Linked DNA regions of Homo sapiens: regions 1, 2, 3 and 4 are each reported to be linked to region 5. Evidence: microRNA targets listed by miRTarBase, many of them from high-throughput screens and not tested one by one. Region 5 holds a microRNA gene; each other region holds the end of a gene's coding sequence.
Evidence for each region. Region 5 holds the annotated microRNA hsa-miR-6880-5p (UGGUGGAGGAAGAGGGCAGCUC, at 2,420-2,441, shown strand). A microRNA usually pairs through its seed, bases 2 to 8, with sites in the 3' UTR of a target mRNA and lowers its output. Matches are read on the target gene's strand: a 7mer-m8 pairs with bases 2 to 8, a 7mer-A1 pairs with bases 2 to 7 and ends in A, and an 8mer does both.

Region 1 (4,000 bases), not on the chromosome of region 5:
CCATTTGTTCAAACATGGCTAAAGGGTTTTGACACTGACTCCTAGTCACCATCAAATCCCTCCAATGTGAGACCAGACCAGCCACCTAGGACAGGTCTATCCTGGCACGAAGGAATAATATGGGATGACTCACTGGGGATGCTTTCTGATAAAGATCTTGATCAAATGGGGGAAATGTGGAAGTTGTCAGAATTATAAAGGAGTCACTTGTGCTTAAAAAACAAAACAAAACTGACAAATAGAGTCATGGAAGGCCAGGAAAGAAGGGTTCTCCCTGCATAAATCACTGATAACAAGAGCCATCACAAGACTGAAAAAACGAAAACCTTGCACAAAGGCCATGACAATCTTAAACACACACAAAGACTCCTGCAAGGACCTCTGCCCAGCAACTCCCTGTCCAACCCTGGACTGGCACCACCCTTATTATCCTTGTAGCCAAGGATAATTGTCTCAAAATAATTATGTAATCCTCCTTATTTTCCTCTAAGAACCATTGTCTTCCTTTACCTCTTCAAAAACACGCATAGTTTACTATGGCACATGTATTCCCATTGCAATGCCCTATTCCCCAATACATATCATTTTCTTTCTTTTAGAGAGCCTCTCTCTGTTATCTATCTAGGTTGACAGAGATGATGGAGTAGAGCTGCCCCAGTTAAGGTATTCCAACAGACAGAGGCCCCAGTTGACCCACATTCAACTGAGCCCAACCTAAGTCAGCTGACTGACCCCCTACTAACCCCCGAGCTATGATAATAAATGACTGTTGCTTTAAGCCATTGAATTTTAAGACAAGACAGTTTGTTACACAGAAATAGATAAGTGATACAATGCCTTATGAGCTAATGATGGCAACTTGGAAAGCAATGCTCCAGGTGGTTTTTACATGATCTCTTTGTAATGTTTGCTTCTGCCTAGTGAATGTCCCAGGCCATAACATTTTAGGCACTTTGTTTATAGCTGGTTGCAATCCTACAGTCTCATCATACATAGGGCAATAACCAGGAACAGAGCAATCAGAACCTTCCCCACTCACCCCCCGACCCACCACCCCAAATACAAAGAGAGCTCACATTACGGTAGTCTATAAATCTTATTAATGTGTTTATTGAGATTATAAAATATAATAAGTTATATATATACAGAATTAGACAAAAATAATATTGACAATTAAGACTTCACTGTCTAAGGGCCACAGACCTACCCTGGGGTGTTTTCTAAATGTTTTAAAGTATTGCAGAATTATGAATATCTCCACACAAAAATGGCAGGATGGAGTCCCAGCTTTGGTCAGTGAGAATTATTATGATCTCATTGTTCTGAATCCCATAACATAGGCTAAAGCTTGTCAGAGTAAATCCCATGTTTCCAAATAAGTAAATGACAAGGGAATTTGTAACTATATAAGGAATAGCTCCCTAAAAATGGCAGGTGGAGAGCCAATGGAACATGAGCTGACACTGGCTGGCCTTACAGCCCCAGAATTCTAATAGTGTGAAATGAGGCCAAAGCACCAGGAGCAGAGAACAGCCACCCCACTCTTTCGCTGAAAACATTCTGAGGAGGGTGCAAGCTGTTATCCTGGAATGGCACACTCATCACAAGTGACATTTGCAGTCTAATTAAGGGGAGACTCACTCATCATCATCACAAGGCAGGGGGAAGGGGGCACCACAGGATTTCAAAGAGGAATTAAAAGGATAATTAAGCTCTGCCGTGGAGTATTTAGCTTGCAGGGTAAACCAAATAGGTTCGAAAAACAGCAGCAAACAGACACAGTAAATGATGATATTAAATATTCAGGACCTCATTATGATCCTCTCACAGTATGTACTACATTCGTTGGTGGGAAATTGCTTGTTGGTGTTAAAGATATGACTGATTTTCCCCCTAAAGCATTTTTTCAGTCATGCAACTTGTAATTTTTACAACCTCGCTTTATAAGTCAGAGACTTTGTTTTAATGTAGTAATAAACACAGACCTGCCATCAGGGAGTTCAGCAGTGAACTCTAACCCCTGGTGTGATCACTAGCCTGGCTCCTGAGCTCTTGGCAGTTACAGGGATAGTACAATAATATGCCAAGAACAATGCCAGTTTATTAACTTTCTGCCTATAAATGTTATGTCAAACCATTGCAGTTATTGTGAAAATGCCAAGTCTGAGTTTTTCTGTTTTTATTCCCATTTAAATGGACAAACCACACTGTGTTGACTTCCATAGAGCACCTCAAAGGCCTGGCATTTCCTATAGCTCCACTTTCTTTTTGCTCACCTGAACCCTACCTGCCCCAATTATAGAATCACTAACTAACATCTCATTGGCAGACGAGAAACTGAGGCAGAGAGAGGAAAAGACAAGGCCCAAGGTGGCACAACTAGAAGCCAGCTCCCTCGACATCAAGCCCAGGCTCTCATTTGCGCTGCAGAACTCCACTTTCCCTGACTGGCTCAGAAGGCTGAGTCTGAAACTCTCATGCCATGAGGCTAATCCACAAGTCTTAGATGCTCTTGAAATCTAGAATTATGCGTGGCTGAACTCTTAGGAAGTCATCATTTCTCTAATTACAGCTGACTACTCATACATGTTTGAAGTGAAAACACAGCCTGACACATTATAATTTAAATTGCTGTGTCCTTCAGCATTGCTGCCCCTAAAAGGTCAAATCTGCCTAAGACTGAAGTGGAAGGCCATTCACATGTAGTGCAGACCACAGGGTTCCCAGGCCAAAGAGTAATGCAGTAAATGAAATTGGCTACTGCACACATCCAATTGCTTGGACAAACACATGCCTTGCATATTGGTTTTGTATAGAGTGAGCTCTTCCATTATTGACTGGAAGGCCTGTAAGAATATGGATGACCTCAAGGATAGGTAAAAAGTTATCCTAATGAAACCACATAGGGTATTAACAGACTTGTACTAAACCTGAAATAATACCTGGAGCAGGGTGTCTGCATTTTGTTGCCATTTTATCAAAATGTTTGAGCTGCTTCTTCACTAGGATGCCATCCTTCATCATCCCAGTAGGGAGTCATCTCCCGCTTAGAACTTCTATTAACGTTTTCTAAGCGCCCCTTCATTCAGCTTGTTTGACGTCTTCCAGTGAAGTGGTTTGTAAACATACGTTCCTTCTGTCTTCTACTGGAGTGCAAACTCCTTAAAGACAGGGACCAGATTCTTCACTTCTGTCATTCCCACGGGGTTTGATTCATTTGAGTCCTCAACATTGTCTCATTGTTCAGTGAGTTAATGGTGGGCTGGTGGGCTGGCTGTATGAGTGAGTAGATATTTACTCTGCCTGGTGAGGTACAGGCGAGCATCTGAAAGTATCCCGGCTCTAGTCCTTTATCTTTGGTTAAATTGGAAGACAGGCCTTATTTCGTCTGGCTCCTTGAACATCCTAAGGCATACGGTGACATATCACAAAAGCCTTGATTCTTGGCAGTCTTTTGGCACCACTCACAGCTCCAGAGCCCTCGTTGGCTCCTTGGCTTGTCCTGGGAGGACAGCCCACAGGCATGCTTTTCAGGATGCAGCATGTGGCTGGGAGGCAGGTGGCACAACCCCCGCCCACTCCAGTATGTCTGCACACAAGGACTCCACAGCATCCAGCCGCTCAATCTGCACCAGTTTTGTGAGTAGCTCAGGGATGCTGTAGCCTGCCGTGCTGATGCGGTCAAAGAGTTGCATGCCGTCTGTCATGCCCCCAATCTCATCCCTCTTCAGGCCGAAGCTCTCGGCGAGGTGGCGCCACGTTTTCACAACAGCCTTCTCAGAGTTGTACGTGGAGCTGAGCATTCGGCTAGTCTTCTCGAGGCAATCAAATGGCAGCTCCGTGGGGCTAAGACCTACAGACACCAATGGCCACAGTTAGATGTTGCAAGTCACAGTCAATAGAAGGTCAACACTGAAAAATTATTTAAATGAAATAAAAATTATTTGAAAAAAATTTTTTTAAAATTATAAAACATGCAGAAAGCCACCTAAAACAAATG
Region 2 (4,000 bases), not on the chromosome of region 5:
CCAGGCTTGTTGAGCTGTGTGTGAAGCGTGCAAGGCTCTCCTGGCTGTGACATGGTGTTTTGGTTGTTTTTTTCTTGCTTCCGGGCCCTTGGCTGGGCAAGGTGCTGGTGATTGTTACAAAGAGCTATCACCTATCAGGAGTTATGTCACCCAGAGTCTCAGGTTAGAAAAGGTGGCTGAACCTCTGCAACAAAGAAAGAGTGTGTGGTCTGTGCATTCTCACACAAGAGGGAGAAAAGTTCTAGGAGCTAAGAGTGTGGAATTCTGTGATCTGTGGGGCTGAGGGTCACCTGCTGGGAGGTCCTGGCATCAGTAAGAAGCTTCCAAGGGAAGAGCCCAGTAAAGGCCTGCAGACGGCCTCAACCAGCTCAGTGCCAGGCTCCATCCAGACGGCAAAGCTGCAGCAAACACGACCACAAGACATGGCCCTCCTGCAGCTCAGGAGGAAGCGCTGTAGGCAGAGCCACAGTCGGCCTGCGCCAGGGGGTGTGCGTGAGCACAAATACACTCTTTTGTATCTTATCTTTTATTCCCTCATTCGCCCCCCTTTGGTCAGTCCCCCTAGGTCTGTGCAGGCTACAGTCCACATGTAGACTAGGAAGTGTTTCTACCTGGCAGTGCTTGTTAGTGCAGGTTAACCACTGTGAGTGAATAGGGGTGGCCCCAGGAACACACACACTTTCCACTCTGCGTGCTGCGTCTCCTCTGCAGGTGTATCATCATTTGGGACAGTGCACCTCACTGAAGTCTGCTTAGAGGATGGCAAAATTCTCGTCACCACCAGGATAGGTGCTGTCATTTAAAAAAAAAATTTTTTTTTAATTTTTTGAGACGGAGTCTCGCTCTGTCACCCAGGCTGGAGTGCAGTGGCGTGATCTTGGCTCACTACAAGCTCCGCCTCCTGGGTTCACGCCATTCTCCTGCCTCAGCCTCCCGAGTAGCTGGGACTACAGGCACCTGCCACCACGCCCGGTTAATTTTTTTTTTTGTGTTTTTAGTAGAGAGGGGGTTTCACCAGGTTAGCCAGGATGGTCTCGATCTCCTGACCTCATGATCCGCCCGCCTCAGCCTCCCAAAGTGCTGGCATTACAGGCGTGAGCCACCGCGCCCGGCCAGGTGCTGTTATTAATAGTTATTCATGCAGCAATCTGAAGTTGTACTTTATTTATTTATTTATTTTAGAGGCAGAGTCTCGCTCTGTTGCCCAGGCTGGAGTGCAATGGCGTGATCCCAGCTCACTGCAACCTCGGCTTCCTGGGTTCAAGTGATTCCCCTGCCTTAGCCTCCCAGGTAGCTGGGATTATAGGCGCCCACCACCACGCCCGGCTAATTTTTGTATTTTTAGTGGAGACGGGGTTTCACTATGTTGGCCAGGCTGTTCTCGAACTCCTGACCTCAGGTGATCTGCCTGCCTCAGCCTCTGAAAGTGTTGGGATTATAGGCGTGAGCCACTGTGCCCGGCAAAAGTTGTAAATTATTTTCCCTGGCTACCATAAAATGACTTTATAAGCCACATTTCCAAATTATAGTTTGTTGATCAATAAATCACAAAGTTATTCAAAACAGGTGAAAGTCACAGCTCATGAGAAAAGGATCACATTAGAAGTGGAGAATGACACCTTCAGGGAGGGCAGTGTTTGAATAGTAAAGAGCGGAAACACTTCTTACAGGGCACTTCAACTATATTTTGCTTCCAATTTATCTGTTATAGAAAATCCTTCCTGTGCTTCATAGGACATTTTCACAGGGTTAATTCTAGCTGCTCTTGTAATTAAACCAGAAACATATAAAAGCTCAAAACCAGCAAGACTCACTTGTTCCCTCATGAAAAGGCCCAGTCTTCCCACATCGCAGGCAACTTCTCCTTGTCCTTGGTCACCCGGGGACCCCAGCTTGCTCCTGGTTGGTCCACTCAGCTTCTATGTGCAGGTGGCGGCAGGAAGAGGCCATGGAGAGAGCACTCCCAATGGCTTGTCTCCACTGCCCTGGGCGAGAACACACGGTGAGGTGCTCCCTGACGCCGCTGGGGCTGGGGAATGCAGTTCTCGTCAGGCAGCTGCACACGGACCTCTCTATGGCCTGGAGGAGAGCATGGCCTTCGCTGGATGGCTGACCGTCTCCACCACACAGGATAGGAAAGCCCGACACTTCTGCAGCAAAGTGGGAGTGGAAGTACACTCGAGAGAAGGGAAGAGGCCCTGTCCCGGGGGCCTCGGTGGTTAACAGGTCTAAAAGATGGACCCGTGCCGGGCGTAGTGGCTCACGCCTGTCATCCCAGCACTGTGGGAGGCCGAGGCAGGCGGATCACCTGAGGCCAGGAGTTCGAGACCAGCCTGGCCAACATGGTGAAACCCCGTCTCTACTAAAAATACGAAAAATTAGCCAGGCATGGTGGTACATGCCTGTAATCCCAGCTACCTGGGAGGCTGAGCCTGGAGAATCGCTTGAACCCGGGAGGCAGAGGTTGCAGTGAGCCGAGATTGTGCCACTGCACTCCAGCCTGGGCAACAGAGTGAGACTCAGTCTCAGAAAAAAAAAAAAAAAAGATGGACCCAGCCTTATGAGCATTTGGGAGCATGAGACTGAGGCAGGATGTGTTTCCTCTACTCGGCTCCCAGGCATTGAGAAAGGAATCCGGTTTTACGAACATACGACTGCTTTCAAAATATTTTCAAAATATATTTTATTTCTTTCTTACATGTATTTTGCAAAATTTCCAAGGTAAACATTAGCTCCACATACAGAAATAAAAGAGTTCTTTAAGAACTAGCATTGAATTCATCACAAGAATCATCAAATTATGATAATGGAAAACAAACTTGCCTATGACCAAAGCTACTGAGCTGAAGTGAAGAGCTGTCTTTACAAAGATCCCTCTCATTAAGCCCACTGCCCTGCAGCTGACTCAAGCCATCATCATGTATGTACGTGTATAAGAAAGGACACTGGCCGGGCATGGTGGCTCGCGCCTGTAATCCCAGCACTTTGGGAGGCTGAGGCGGGCGTATCACGAGGTCAGGAGTTTGAGACCAGCCTGGCCAACGTGGAGAAACCCCCGTGTCTACTAATAATACAAAAACTAGCTGGGTGTGGTGGTGTATGCCTGTAATCCCAGCTACTCAGGAGGCTGAGGCAGGAGAATCACTTGAACCCAGGAGGTGGAGGTTGCAGTGAGCCGAGATTGCGCCATTGCACTCCAGCCTGGGCGACAAGAGAGAAACTCTGTCTCCAAGGAAAAAAAAAAAAAAAAAAAAAGAAAGGACATTGGCACAGTACAGCAGCTTTGCAACCTCAAAGATGGTTTGAGTTTTAGTTCCCATGAGTACATCCTCCACAGGTATTGGGTGCTTTGCACTATTGACTTAGATGGGTCAGTTCTGAAGTTTGATTAAGACATTCTCTTGGAGATACATTTTATATAAATCTTGTAATGTGCTAAATTGTCAAATTGTTAATGGTACTAAATACTCAAGGACATTATTTTGTATGGCCCCTACATTTCTGCATCATCGTCGTCGTCATCATCATCATCTTTGGCTCTGAAATGCATTTTTCTGAACTCTCGTCTGCTCATTGAAGGACAAGATGAAGACGCAGGTGGGAGGTCCTTAGTGGAGAAGAAAACATGACTTCAGTCATGAGCAATACATATCTGCACCCGCATTTGCAATGTGCCCCACCCAGCGGCTCTAGGGCTCGCAGAGCGCTCTTCCCTTTTAGACGTGTGAAAATGCCTGAGTCCCAGCACTCGCCTCTAGATGAGAACTTCCTCCCTACTGGGCTGATCGAGTAAAGAGAAGGAAAGGTGCTGGGTTCAAAACAAAAGAAATTAACAGCAAGCGCGGGGTGGATGTTCAAAAAAACCACAAACCTGATTTCATGGAAACACACCTTTCCCGAGAGCAGTGATTCTCAGCTCGGGAGATGCAGGGAGAGCCCCCAATTAGCCAACGGTTTCATTTTCTCCTCGTGGGTTAAAATGATTAGTTTATGTTTAATG
Region 3 (4,000 bases), not on the chromosome of region 5:
CCTTGCTCCGATGATGTCACACCTCTTCGTCTGTCTGGAAGACATTTCCCCAAGAGCATACCAGCAACGTCCGGGAAACAGAATCCAACTGGTCGCTGCAAAATTTGCTGCTCCCAATACGACAAGGATGGCAAGAAGATCCGGAAAGAAACGCGCTATTTTTGTGCCGAATGTGATGTTCCGCTTTGTGTTGTTCCGTGCTTTGAAATTTACCACACGAAAAAAAATTATTAAATACCGATCATCATACACATCTGTTCCATTAGGATTAGAGACAAGTTCTGTTTAGAAATAACTCCAAGATTGGGAGGCCGACCTGGGTGGATCACCTGAGATCAGGAATTCAAGACCAGCCTGGCCAACATGGTGAAACCCTGTCTCTACTAAAAATACAACAATTAGCTGGATGTGGTGGCACATGCCTGTAATCCAAGCTACTTGGGAGGCTGAGGCAGGAGAATTGCTTGAACCCATGAGGCGGAGGTTGCAGTGAGCTGAGATCACACCACTGCACTCCAGCCTGGGTGACATAGCGAGACTCCATCTCAAAAAAAAGAAATAACTCCAAGAACAGTTTTGTTGTTTTTGTTTTGTTTTGTTTTGTTTTGAGACGGAGTTTCACTCTTGTTGCCCAGGCTGGAGTGCAATGGCATGATATTGGCTCACTGTAACCTCCACCTCCCAGGTTCAAGCGATTCTCGTGCCTCAGCCTCCCTAGTAGCTGGGATTACAGGCATGTGCCACCACACCCACCTAATTTTGCATTTTTAGTAGAGACTGGGTTTATCCATGTTGGTCAGGCTAGTCTTGACCTCCCGACCTCAGGTGATCCGCCTATCTGGGCCTCACAAAGTCCTGGGATTATAGGCATGAGCCACTGCGCCTAGCACCAAGAACAGTTTTTATATTTTATTTTCACATTGAAAATCAGTCAGATTTGCTTCAGCCTCAAAGAGGGTGTTTATGTAAAACTAAATGAGTGCAGGCAGCGAGCTACACTTTTTTTTTTCCTAAATGGAAAATGGGAAGGAGATACTGTCTCTGAACAAAAATAGCTGGAAAAACACATAACTGTTAACTAAGGGTTGCCTCTAGTGAAAAGGATTGGAAGACAATTTATCTGATGCTACACTATTCTTCCTGTTGTGATTGTTTTACTGTGAACATAACAAGGTTGTATTGGGGAGGAGGGCAGGGGTTGATTGCTGCCAATGTTGATTGCTGAGGCCTTAGCCAAGATTTCAGGCATCATTTGCTCCAGTCCTTTCATTTTCTTTATGGTGGAAAGTGAAGTGACTTGCCCAAGATCTTTGTTGGCCCTAAACATCGCTGTCTCTGCTACAGATTCCTATTGAGAGCAATGCATGTTTTAGCCTTGTGCACTCTTAGAGTCAGCATCATGGGAAAGAGTAACAGCAATTGAAAAAAGAGATTCAAGAGCCAAGTACTCAGCCCTGGCAGGGGATGGGGACATGATGCCCAGAGCCACCCCTATACTCCAGTCTCCCTGGCATCAGCTACTGCAGTACTGGGGTACTTGCCTTCATCTTTTTTCTGAAGATAGTTACTTCTTCATATTTGATCATCGGAAGGAGCAGCATTGCTCAGAAACACACACACACACACACACACTTGACTTTCTTGTCTGCCAAATAAATTTCTTATTTGCTAGGGAACTGGTAATCTAGGCTCAAGAAGTGTGTGGAGAAGGTTTATTTTCATTCTTTTTACTTTAAAATATGCCTTAGTTTTTGAATAGATAAGACATTCAAGTGTCAGAAAGTAAAAGTCAGTTCAGGACTGAGAAAGGAAAGATCAGTGCTGATTTTAATCAGACTGTAATGTACCAACTAGATACAGACAGGGCCAGTGGCAAGGCCATCAGAAAACTTCTTCCCAAGGCCACACCACACCTGCAAAATGCCTAACAACCTTCTTCTTTTCAGTGATTACCACTTTCTTACCAATGACTTCGCTTTGTTCCTCGTGCCTCTGAACAGACTGCTGAGATACCCAATCAAGAGCCAATCCTTGCTTCCCTAGACTCTCCTCAATCATTCAACAGAAGCCCAAATCTTGTAAAAGTTCCTTTCTGGGCCGGGCACAGTGGCTCACGCCTGTAATCCCAGCACTTTGGAAGGCCGAGATGGGCGAATCACAAGGTCAGGAGTTTGAGACTAGCCTGGCCAACATGGTGAAACCCTGTCTCTACTAAAAATACAAAAAAAAATTAGCTGGGCATAGTGGTGGGTGCCTGTAATCCCAGCTACTTGGGAGGCTGAGACAGGAGAATCACTTGAACCCGGGAGGCAGAGGTTGCAGTGAGCCAAGATCGCACCACTGCACTCCAGCCCTGGCGACAGAGTGAGACTCCATCTCAAAAAATAAAAAAGTTTCCTTCTGTTCCCTCTTACTGTTATATCCTTGGTTTCTCTGGTGTGGGGTCTTCCTTACAGCAGCAAGCTCATAAACTTAACTTGACCGCAGGTGTGTTCCTTGGTGGTCTTTATCTGATAGACTTTGTCACATGGTACAATATTCAAAAGGCACATGGTACAATATTCAAAAGGCACATGGTACAATATTCAAAAGGTATGAGTATACAAAAAAAATCTCCCACCTACTTCTCTCCCTAGTCACCCAATTCTCAAGAGGCAATCACTGTTGCCATTTTCCTGAGTATTCTTCCACAGATAGTCAACTATCTACAGAAAAATATATACATTAAAAATAAGGCCAGGCACAGTGGCATGCCTGTAGTCCCAGCTACTCAGAAGGTTGAAGCAGGAGGATCACTTGAGGCCAGGAGGGCCAGGAATTTGAAGCTGTAGTGTGCTATGATAGCAGGCCTGTGAATAGCCATTGCACTCCATCCTGGGCAACATAGCCAGACCCTGTCTCTAAAAAAAAAAAAAAAAAAAAAAAAGACAAAAAAACAAATCCATATATACATATATATGTATATATATAGTATGCTACCAGTTGTGTGAAAAAAGGGGCAAAATATATATTTATTTAACTTATATACAAATAACATTCTAGAAATAAATTGTTTAATATAAAATACACTAATATATAATAATGTATTACCTAACATATGATTATATATAACTATAATGTGTACTGTTTTACATACATATTTCCAAAGTATACTATAAATGCACTTCCGCACTTTGCTCTTTTTACTAAATATATCTTGGAAATCATCCTTTATTCGTACATAAAAAGCTTCATAGTTCCTTTTTATGGCTGCAAAATGTTCCAGCTTATGGATGGACTGATTCTCTATCGAGCAACATTAAGATTGTGTCCTATTTTACTATTCCTAATTTTGCTGAAGTGAATTTCTTTTGCCATGTGATTTCCACAGGTGTATATATGTAGCGTAATTAGTACTAGTAGAAAGTAGAATTGCTAGATCAAAGAGTATGTGCCTTTGTAATTTTGATGATATTGTGAAATCTTCTTCCACAGAAGTTGTTGCAACTTTCACTCTCACCAGCAATGTGTAAGATAACTTGCTTCTTCATACCCTCACCAACAATGAGCTATCAAATGTTATTTTTGCCAAGCAAATAAATTAAAAGTGATATCTCAGTTTTTGTTTGTTTGTTTGTTTTTTGAGACAGAGTTTCACTCTTTGTTGCCCAGGCTGGAGTGCAGTGGCGTGATCTCGGCTCACTGTAACCTCCGCCTCCCAGGTTCAAACGATTCTCCTGTCTCACCCTCCCGAGTAGCTGGGATTACAGGCACCTGCCACCACACCCAGTTAATTTTTGTATTTTTAGTAGAGACAGGGTTTCACCATGTTGGCTAGGCTGACCTCGAACTCCTAACCTCAGGTGATCCACCTGCCTCGGCCTCCCAAAGTGCTGGAATTACAGGCGTGAGCCACCATGCCTGGCTCTTCTTGCTTGTTTGTTTTGAGACAGAGTCTTGCTCTGTCAGCCAGGCTGGAGTGCAGTGGCACGATATTGGCTCACTGCAACCTCTGTCTCCC
Region 4 (4,000 bases), not on the chromosome of region 5:
TTCTGTGACTGCATACAAATTCAAAGATATAATGCGTGACTTTGAATTGGAGTTTGCCACACTGACTTATGTTATCAAATTCTGTTCTGTGATCACACCTTGCTTTCTCTATTGAAGGCAAAAAGTATTGAGCATTTATTATATGAGACACTGGGCTGGGCACATTGTTAAATAGAATAATAATAAGCGCTAGTTGTAAATAAAGACCTAAGATAACAAAAACAGATCTAAAATAGCATATGTGTGTTGTGAAGTATTTTCCAGTGATTATACTTGGCTGTCTTTCTGGATGTCCAAGGCAGTTATTTGCAGTCACTGTCACACTTCTAAATCCCTGGTGTAGCTTGCAGTCTTGGTCATTATTTAAAACTCTGGTTAGAATGATGGTGATGGACTTTTTTTCATATAGAAGCAGTTCTCAAAGATTTAGAGCATTAATTATTTGCTCCAAAATCAGAGATATGTCTAGTTTACAAGACGTGGAAATAAGTCTGTTAACTTTTGATCTCTTTGTATTTCAGGTGGTGGCCAAAAAATATCGCAACTTTGATATTCCAAAAGAAATGACTGGCATCTGGAGATACCTAACTAATGCATACAGTAGGGACGAGTTCACCAATACCTGTCCCAGTGATAAGGAGGTTGAAATAGCATATAGTGATGTAGCCAAAAGACTCACCAAGTAAAATCGCGTTTGTAAAAGAGATGTCTTCATGTCTTCCCCTAAGAATACGCTTTTCCTAACAGGCTACTCCTTCCTGTAGAGCAGAAATTGTATTTTGCACGAACATGCAGTTATTGAAGATTAGGATCAAGGATAGACAAGGTATAGTAGTTATCTTAAAATATACACTCCTAAGCAGTATTATTTTAAAATCCTTTACCCTGGCTACCTCCCCTACCCGGGTTCCCCTCTCTTTAATTTGGAGACACTCCACCACAAACTTTTCACTTTAGAGGTAGCTTGCCATCTCTCAGGAGCCCTCACCATTGTGTCCATTCACTGTGTATAGATGGCAGAACTTTTGAGGTGCAATGTTTAATTGTTAAAAATAGTAGCCACGACTTTATCAGGCAGCCCCAAACTGGTGCATAATGCATGGTACAAGAAATATTTATGTATTTTTTGGAATTTTGTAATATTTAGTAAGAGTATATGAAAGGATTGCTACTGTATCAGAAATATTGTTTCAATTTAGTCTATCCTGGATATGTACTAACGAATATTACCACCAGAGAAGAGAGCTTTCTACAAAAGTCACTACAGATTTTGCTATATTGCTTTGTAGATAGATTTTTACTTTTGCCTAAAAGCATTTATCCTTCATACCAATTGTAACATCTGACACCATGTAGAAGCTAAAAGTTTAGAGGGAGTGAGGGTTTTCTCAAGACCTTCCTCAAGCATTTTATCTTTAGAAGAGAAACTGATGGGCACCTGATACTCTGTCTAAATACGTTTGTTATATGTGTTTTGCCCTGTGCCATTCATTTGGAACTTTATTGCATTCTTTATTTTAAAAAGCTTGTTTTTACGTAATCATAGAGCTTGCTATTTGTACATCTGTTGAGCAACACTACATAACTGATTTTTAGTTGACTTAGCTATAGCAGTACAATGATTAGTAATGTAAAAATTAACACAGAAATTAACCTAAGGAATGAAGGGTGGGTTTGTCAAAATATCAAGTAAATTTTTGTTTCTAAAGTACATTTAATGTAGATGACCTAAAGAATGCGTTATCCATCCTATATAAAAGAAAGATAAAACACAGGTCACCAATTTTCTCATTTCACCCCATTTACCTTGTATAGAGGATTGTTCATTCCTTTGGGACTAAGTTATAGTTATGGTGAGTGTGTATTTACTGTAGTTTTGCCTGATCTCACTCATTGCACTTCCTGGAGTTAAATTTTCCAACAGCCATGTTGAGGAATAGCACTCTGCATGTTTTTGTTTTGTTTTTCGGGGTTTTTTTTAATTGAAGCCCTAAACCAGGAATTATTTGTGTTCTAACAGGAGGATGAACTTGCTGAAAATAAAACTTTGCTATGTATTTACTCTTTTTTAAAAGACAAAAGCAAAACCAGACTTTCTACGTACTACTCCAAAGACTGTGATTGTGACTATAATACATTTTTGGTAATTTTTTTATACCTAATTTGTATAGGAAGTGCTATTTCTCATAGGCTGTTTCTTGAAATTTTAAGTTTATTGCTTTAAAATGGCAGTGTTTCTCCCACTTTGATATGCTAACATTTAGTAAGCACTGGCTTTATGAAAGCGGCTTTTTATAAGTATACTGCATTTTTTGAGCCTATCATTAATTAGCTTAGTATGAAAGATAAGAAAATCTCCATGTTGTATCCATTTGGCTCAGGAAGATTCTTTGCCTTACCTTTCTTAGAACTCTTTATTGCTTATCAAAAGTTTGAGTACCCGCTTGGTTTTTTTTTGGTAATTAAATATTGTATGATTTATCTGGTTCAAGGAAGATGCACTATTCAGTTATCTATTGAGAAATTATTTTGCAGTGGTTTTAGTGGGTGAAAATGTCCCATCTGCACCAGTACACAGGCAGGCATTATCATTCTTCACCTACTTTTTAAATAGTGGCAACTTGGGATTCATTCTGGTGATTCTGAACCTTGCCTCATAGCTTAAAGTATAAAAAAGATTCAAGAGCAGTGAGGTTTGTTCTTTCCAGTGAATGGTGGACTGAGTGGTGCGAGGTGGAGGGCTAACAAGAGGAAAGAACTACATTCTTCAGAATACAGTGATGAAAATTCATTTTGAAACTCAAATATTTTCATTTTGGATATTCTCCTGTTTTTATTAAACCAGTGATTACACCTGGCCATCCCTCTAAATGTTCTAGGAAGGCATGTCTATTGTGATTTTGATGAAGACAGAATTATTTTTCTCTGTAGAAACACAGATACCACTTTATCAGGGAAGTTAGTCAAATGAAATGGAAATTGGTAAATGGACAAAAGCTAGCTAGTAAAAAGGACGACCCAGCAACATGCTTTAACCCCATTGTATGTTTGTGGAAAGAGCATAGTTTAACATCTTGAGAAATTTGGGACATAAAGTTTTCATGGTAGACAGTTCATGCAGTATATGAATTGCCATAATGGAAATAATCTGATTTTATTTTTACAACTAACATCCATTCCCCTTCATTTAAACACCTTTTGTGTTTTACTTCAGTGAGGAGATTGGAGTCTGAATGGATCTGTTTTCCAAGAGATTCTGAGAAATTTTTGTATTCAGCAGTTGGAAAGCTCTCTATTCTAGTTGATAAAACTTCCCTTTTTTGATGTAGATGCAGATATTCTATACAGTTCTGTTGTCTTTTACTAGGACTGTAAACTTTTGTGATAAAATTCAAATAAGATTTTATTTCTTGGTAATTTTGGCTTTCACAATTTATCTTTAAATCCTTGAGCAATCTGTATACAATTAAGAGATTTCTGACATTTATTCTTACACTAAATGGATCAACTCTAGGATTTAGGCATGTTAACTTCTGTTGTGTTTTGAATCTCTCCAGAGTTGCATGTAGATAGCATTTATTTCTGTGCCCTTAAACCCATTTAGAAAATAACTACAAAGTAAAAATGTAGAGGAAATAGAAATGTATTTTTTCATGAACATTTTGATACAAATTTCATCATTTAATGATTCACCAATTTCTTGCATTAATTTGAATTTAAGCATTTAATTCAAAGAGAGGGGAGCATCCATTATTGATACATGTGGGCTTTTAAAAACTCCATCCTTTATAAATAGTCAAGGTTTGGGCCACACAAAGTATATTTTTATCATGGAAAAATTTCAACTCCTCAAGCCGTAATGTTGAACAGAATTGGAGTATTTTCTTTATAATTTCTTGAACAGGCAAATGAAAGCTTATTATAGAATGCATGTATTTTCTTTTATCTTTGGAACATCAGCACCAGTATATTGCTGGCAGCTATTGTATTAAAAAATAAA
Region 5 (4,000 bases):
TAGATGGCCGGGTTAGCCAGATAGGTGGTTGGGTTAGGTGGGTAGGTGGGTCAGTGGGAGGATAGATGGTTAGGTTAGCTGGGTGGGTGGATGGATGGATGGGTGGGTGATAGGGTTAGGTAGGTAGGTGGGTGGGTGAGAGGATAGATAGCTGGGTTAGCTGGGTGGATGGATGGGTGGGTGGTCACGTTAGGTAGGTAAGTAGATGGGCAAAAGGATAGATGGCCAAGTTAGCTGTGTGGGTGGGTGGGTGGTAGGTAGGTAGGTAGGTAGGTAGGTAGGTAGGTAGGTGGCTAAGAGGATAAATGACTGAGTTAGCCAGATGGATGGATGGATGGATGGATGGATGGATGGATGGGCAGGTGGTTGGGTTAGGTAGGTAGGTGGGTGGGTGAGAGGATAGATGACTGGCTTAGCTGGGTGGGTGGGTGGGTGGGTGGTAGGTAGATCGGGTTAGGTAGGTAGATGGGTGGGTAAGAGGATAGATGGCTGGGTTAACTGGGTGGATGGATGGATGGGTGGGTGGGTGGTTGGGTTAAGTAGGTAGGTAGGTGGGAGGAAGGATAGATGGCCAGATTAGCCATGTGGATGGATGGATGGGTGGGTGGCTGAGTTAGGTAGGTAGGTGGGTGGGTGAGAGTATAGACGCTGGCTTAGCTGGGTGGGTGGATGGGTGGGTGGTAGGGTTAGGGAGGTAGGTGGGTGGGTGAGAGTATAGATGGCTGGGTTAGCTGGGTGGGTGGGTGGATGGGTGGGTGGTAGGGTTAGGTGGATGATGGAATGGATGGTTGGATGAGTAATTGTGGGGATGAGTGGATGGAGGCCCCAGTGGATGGACGATGAGTTGGGCGGTGGGATGAGTAGATGGGGAGGTTGTTTGGTTTGAGAATAGAATCTGTGGAGAGGGAGAGACTGAATGGGGACTGTGAGGAAAGACTTTCCCGGTCCCCCACATTTAGCAAGGCCAGCAAGGAAAAGAGGTGTCCCTCTTGCCTGGACAAAGTCCCAAGTTTCTCTGAGATGGGAGAGGCCCCTGAGTGCCCTCTGGTGACACACACTCCAGAGACTGTGGGCAGAGCTGCTTCACCAGGGGGGTGGGGTCACACCTCAACACCCTTCCCTGCCCGGAACCTTTTTTTTTTTTTTTTTTTGATGGAGTTGTACTCTGTCGCCCAGGCTGGAGTGCAGTGGTACGATCTCTGCTTACTGCAACCTCCACCTCCTGGGTTCAAGTGATTCTCCTGCCTCAGCCTCCCAAGTAGCTGCAGTTACAGGCACGTGCAACCACACCCGGCTAATTTTTATATTTTTAGTAGAAATGCGGTTTCACCACGTTGGCCAGGCTGGTCTCAAACTTCTGACCTCAAGTGATCTGCCTGCCTCAGCCTCCCAAAGTGCCGGGATTACAGGCGTGCGCCACCGCACTCAGCCTCCAGGACCTATTTAGAGGCAACTTACTCCTCCAAAATGAATTTTCATTCAAAAAAGTACTTGTGCCCCAACTTGCCGCTTGGATGCCTGAAGTCATACCTCCCCTAATCATTATTTCAATTATGAAAAATGGCATCGTTTCCCAAAAGCAGTGGCGACTTTGTCACCCCTGACTCAGACCCAGCAGGTGCATGAAGCACTAATCCCTGGCTGTGGGGAGCAGGGTTCCGCACACAGGCTCTGTGGGATATGCCCGTGACAGCCGATTCAAAAATATAATGGAGAAAACGAGTGCCTGCCCACTGCCCGCTCATGAATGAGGCTCTGGGAGGTAGAGTTAGCGAGAGATGGGGGTGCCCCCATGGAAACGCAGGGCTCCGGGAAGGCCACGTGGGTGGAGCAGCCGGCTCCTGTTCCAGCCCCAGCCCTGTGCAGGGGCAGCTGTGCCCCAGCTTCTCACTCACAGAGCTGGGAACAGCAGCTTTCTCTGTTCTCAACGCCCACCCTGGCCGCCCCCTGGCATCCTTCCCCTTGCTCTCTCACTCCTCACGTGGCTTTTTTAGCTCTTCGGGTATCCTGAGCAGGCCCAGCTCCCTCATGTGCCCCCTCCCTGAAGACCTCCTAGCCCTGCCTCAGCTTCCTTGCCGTTCTCTCCTGGTACCTCATTGACTACCTCCACACAGTTACCAGGCTCTGTAGAGCTTGGGATATCTGTTAATGTGATCGTAGTCTGTTTTCTGAATTAGATGGTAAGATGCTTGCATCCGTTTTATGACCGCTGTATTCACAGTGTCTAGAACAGTGCCTGGCACCTAGTAGCTGCTTAATCAGAAGTTTTGGAATGATGCAAGGAATGAATGAACGAATGAGTGGGATGGGTCAAACCATGACGCACAGAGTCTGGCAGGTTACAGTCAGGAGGGCAGTTTCACTCTGGGAGCAGCAGGGGATGTGGATTTATCCCAGGGCAATGGGGACTCATCGAGGGTGGTGGAGGAAGAGGGCAGCTCCCATGACTGCCTGACCGCCTTCTCTCCTCCCCCAGGTCCACCTCCACCTCCTCACCCGTTCGCCCGGCTGCCACATTCCCACCTGCCACCCACTGCCCACTGGGCGGCACCCTCGATGGGGTCTACCCTACCCTCATGGAGCCCGTCTTGCTGCCCAAGGAGGCCCCCCGGGTCGCCCGGCCAGAGCGGCCCCGAGCAGACACCGGCCATGCCTTCCTCGCCAAGCCCCCAGCCCGCTCCGGGCTGGAGCCCGCCTCCTCCCCCAGCAAGGGCTCGGAGCCCCGGCCCCTAGTGCCTCCTGTCTCTGGCCACGCCACCATCGCCCGCACCCCTGCGAAGAACCTCGCACCTCACCACGCCAGCCCGGACCCGCCGGCGCCACCTGCCTCGGCCTCGGACCCGCACCGGGAAAAGACTCAAAGTAAACCCTTTTCCATCCAGGAACTGGAACTCCGTTCTCTGGGTAAGACCACCCTGACAGCGGCCACCTTCATAGACGCGATTATCATGCGTCAAATTGCTCACGATAAAGGGGCGCGAGAAGGAGGTGCGCTGGCCAACGGCTCCCCTCGCGATGGTAAGACTTCCGGCCCGCACCCACCCCGTCTCGTGGTCCAAAGATATTTTCAGATCTCTGCTTTTTACTTTGGCCCCCGTTTTTTTTGTTGTTGGTTTTGGTATTTTGTTTTGAAGCCCATCCGTCCTCGCCGGTTTGCACGCGCTGACGACTACTCCGGCCGCGCCTGCCCCTCTGGTTTGGGGGCGCTCATCATTTGCACATCATTTTACCATGGTTTTTTTTTTTTGGATTTTTGCTTTTTTTTCTTTAATGAATGGATCTGTGATTCTGACTTCGACTGCGCCCCCATCTCCCTCTTTGCGCCTGTGTCCAGGGAGCAGGGATGGGGCTGCGGGAGGGCTCGGGCCTACGCCCCCACCTGCCGGCTGCCTGGATGCTGTCGGACTGGGGGAAGTGGAGGCAGGCGGTGCAAGGAGAAGCTGAGGCGGGGCAGGGACCTGCGCTGTCGAGGAGGAGCTGGGTCTGGCTCTTGCATCTTGCCCTGTCCCCAGCCCCTGTACCCCAGAAAAAGGGGAGCCCTCTGCCTCTGGACCCCTGCCTTGGCCCTAGTTCATGGCTCCTCTCTGTTGGACTGGGATGGCCGAGGCTATAGCCCAGGCGGGGCCCCGGGGACCCAGGGTCACTCCCAGCCACACCCCCACTTCTCACTCCGCCCCACACACTCCTTCCCCAGAGACCCATGCTGCCCCCATCTCACGCTGGCCTCGCCCGGCCTCCACCACCTGAACCCATCTCTGTCCCTTCTTGCCTAATCTCTCTCTGTGTCTCCCTCTCTGTCTGTCTCTGTCCCGGGCTCTGCATCTCTCTCCACCTCTCCCTTGGCCTCCCTGTCTCTCCCCAACACCCCTCTCTGCCTTACTGTCTTTGGGAGCCCAAACCCTACCCCTAGCTTGGGTTCCCCTTGACCCCCCCGGGGTCCCAGCCAGCTGGGAGGGCAGCCCTGCCCCTCGGGCTCCGAAACCCTGGGCCCGGTGCCTGA

Region 1: miRTarBase lists EDAR as a target of hsa-miR-6880-5p. Seed matches in the 3' UTR shown: 7mer-m8 at 1,434-1,440.
Region 2: miRTarBase lists C1orf174 as a target of hsa-miR-6880-5p. Seed matches in the 3' UTR shown: 7mer-m8 at 3,158-3,164.
Region 3: miRTarBase lists PGBD4 as a target of hsa-miR-6880-5p. Seed matches in the 3' UTR shown: 7mer-m8 at 673-679.
Region 4: miRTarBase lists CLIC4 as a target of hsa-miR-6880-5p. Seed matches in the 3' UTR shown: 8mer at 933-940.

Annotation. Positions count from the first base shown.
Region 1 is chr2:108,893,377-108,897,376 of GRCh38, forward strand. It overlaps EDAR (ectodysplasin A receptor), which reads right to left. Exons shown (of 12, transcript NM_022336.4): 12 at 1,095-3,853. The coding sequence ends at 3,531. It also overlaps a transcript of RANBP2 not described here. Among named protein-coding and RNA genes, the nearest start is that of EDAR, 94 kb to the right of the region's middle.
Region 2 is chr1:3,886,467-3,890,466 of GRCh38, forward strand. C1orf174 (chromosome 1 open reading frame 174) reads right to left here. Exons shown (of 4, transcript NM_207356.3): 4 at 2,667-3,607. The coding sequence ends at 3,494. Among named protein-coding and RNA genes, the nearest start is that of C1orf174, 12 kb to the right of the region's middle.
Region 3 is chr15:34,104,056-34,108,055 of GRCh38, forward strand. It overlaps PGBD4 (piggyBac transposable element derived 4), which reads left to right. Exons shown (of 1, transcript NM_152595.5): 1 at 1-4,000. The coding sequence ends at 234. Among named protein-coding and RNA genes, the nearest start is that of PGBD4, 4.0 kb to the left of the region's middle.
Region 4 is chr1:24,840,252-24,844,251 of GRCh38, forward strand. It overlaps CLIC4 (chloride intracellular channel 4), which reads left to right. Exons shown (of 6, transcript NM_013943.3): 6 at 522-4,000. The coding sequence ends at 686. Among named protein-coding and RNA genes, the nearest start is that of MIR6731, 77 kb to the right of the region's middle.
Region 5 is chr12:124,335,657-124,339,656 of GRCh38, reverse strand. MIR6880 (microRNA 6880) reads left to right here and starts at 2,415; the gene lies at 2,415-2,476. NCOR2 (nuclear receptor corepressor 2) reads left to right here. Exons shown (of 49, transcript NM_006312.6): 40 at 2,477-2,904. RefSeq lists a silencer at 3,023-3,203.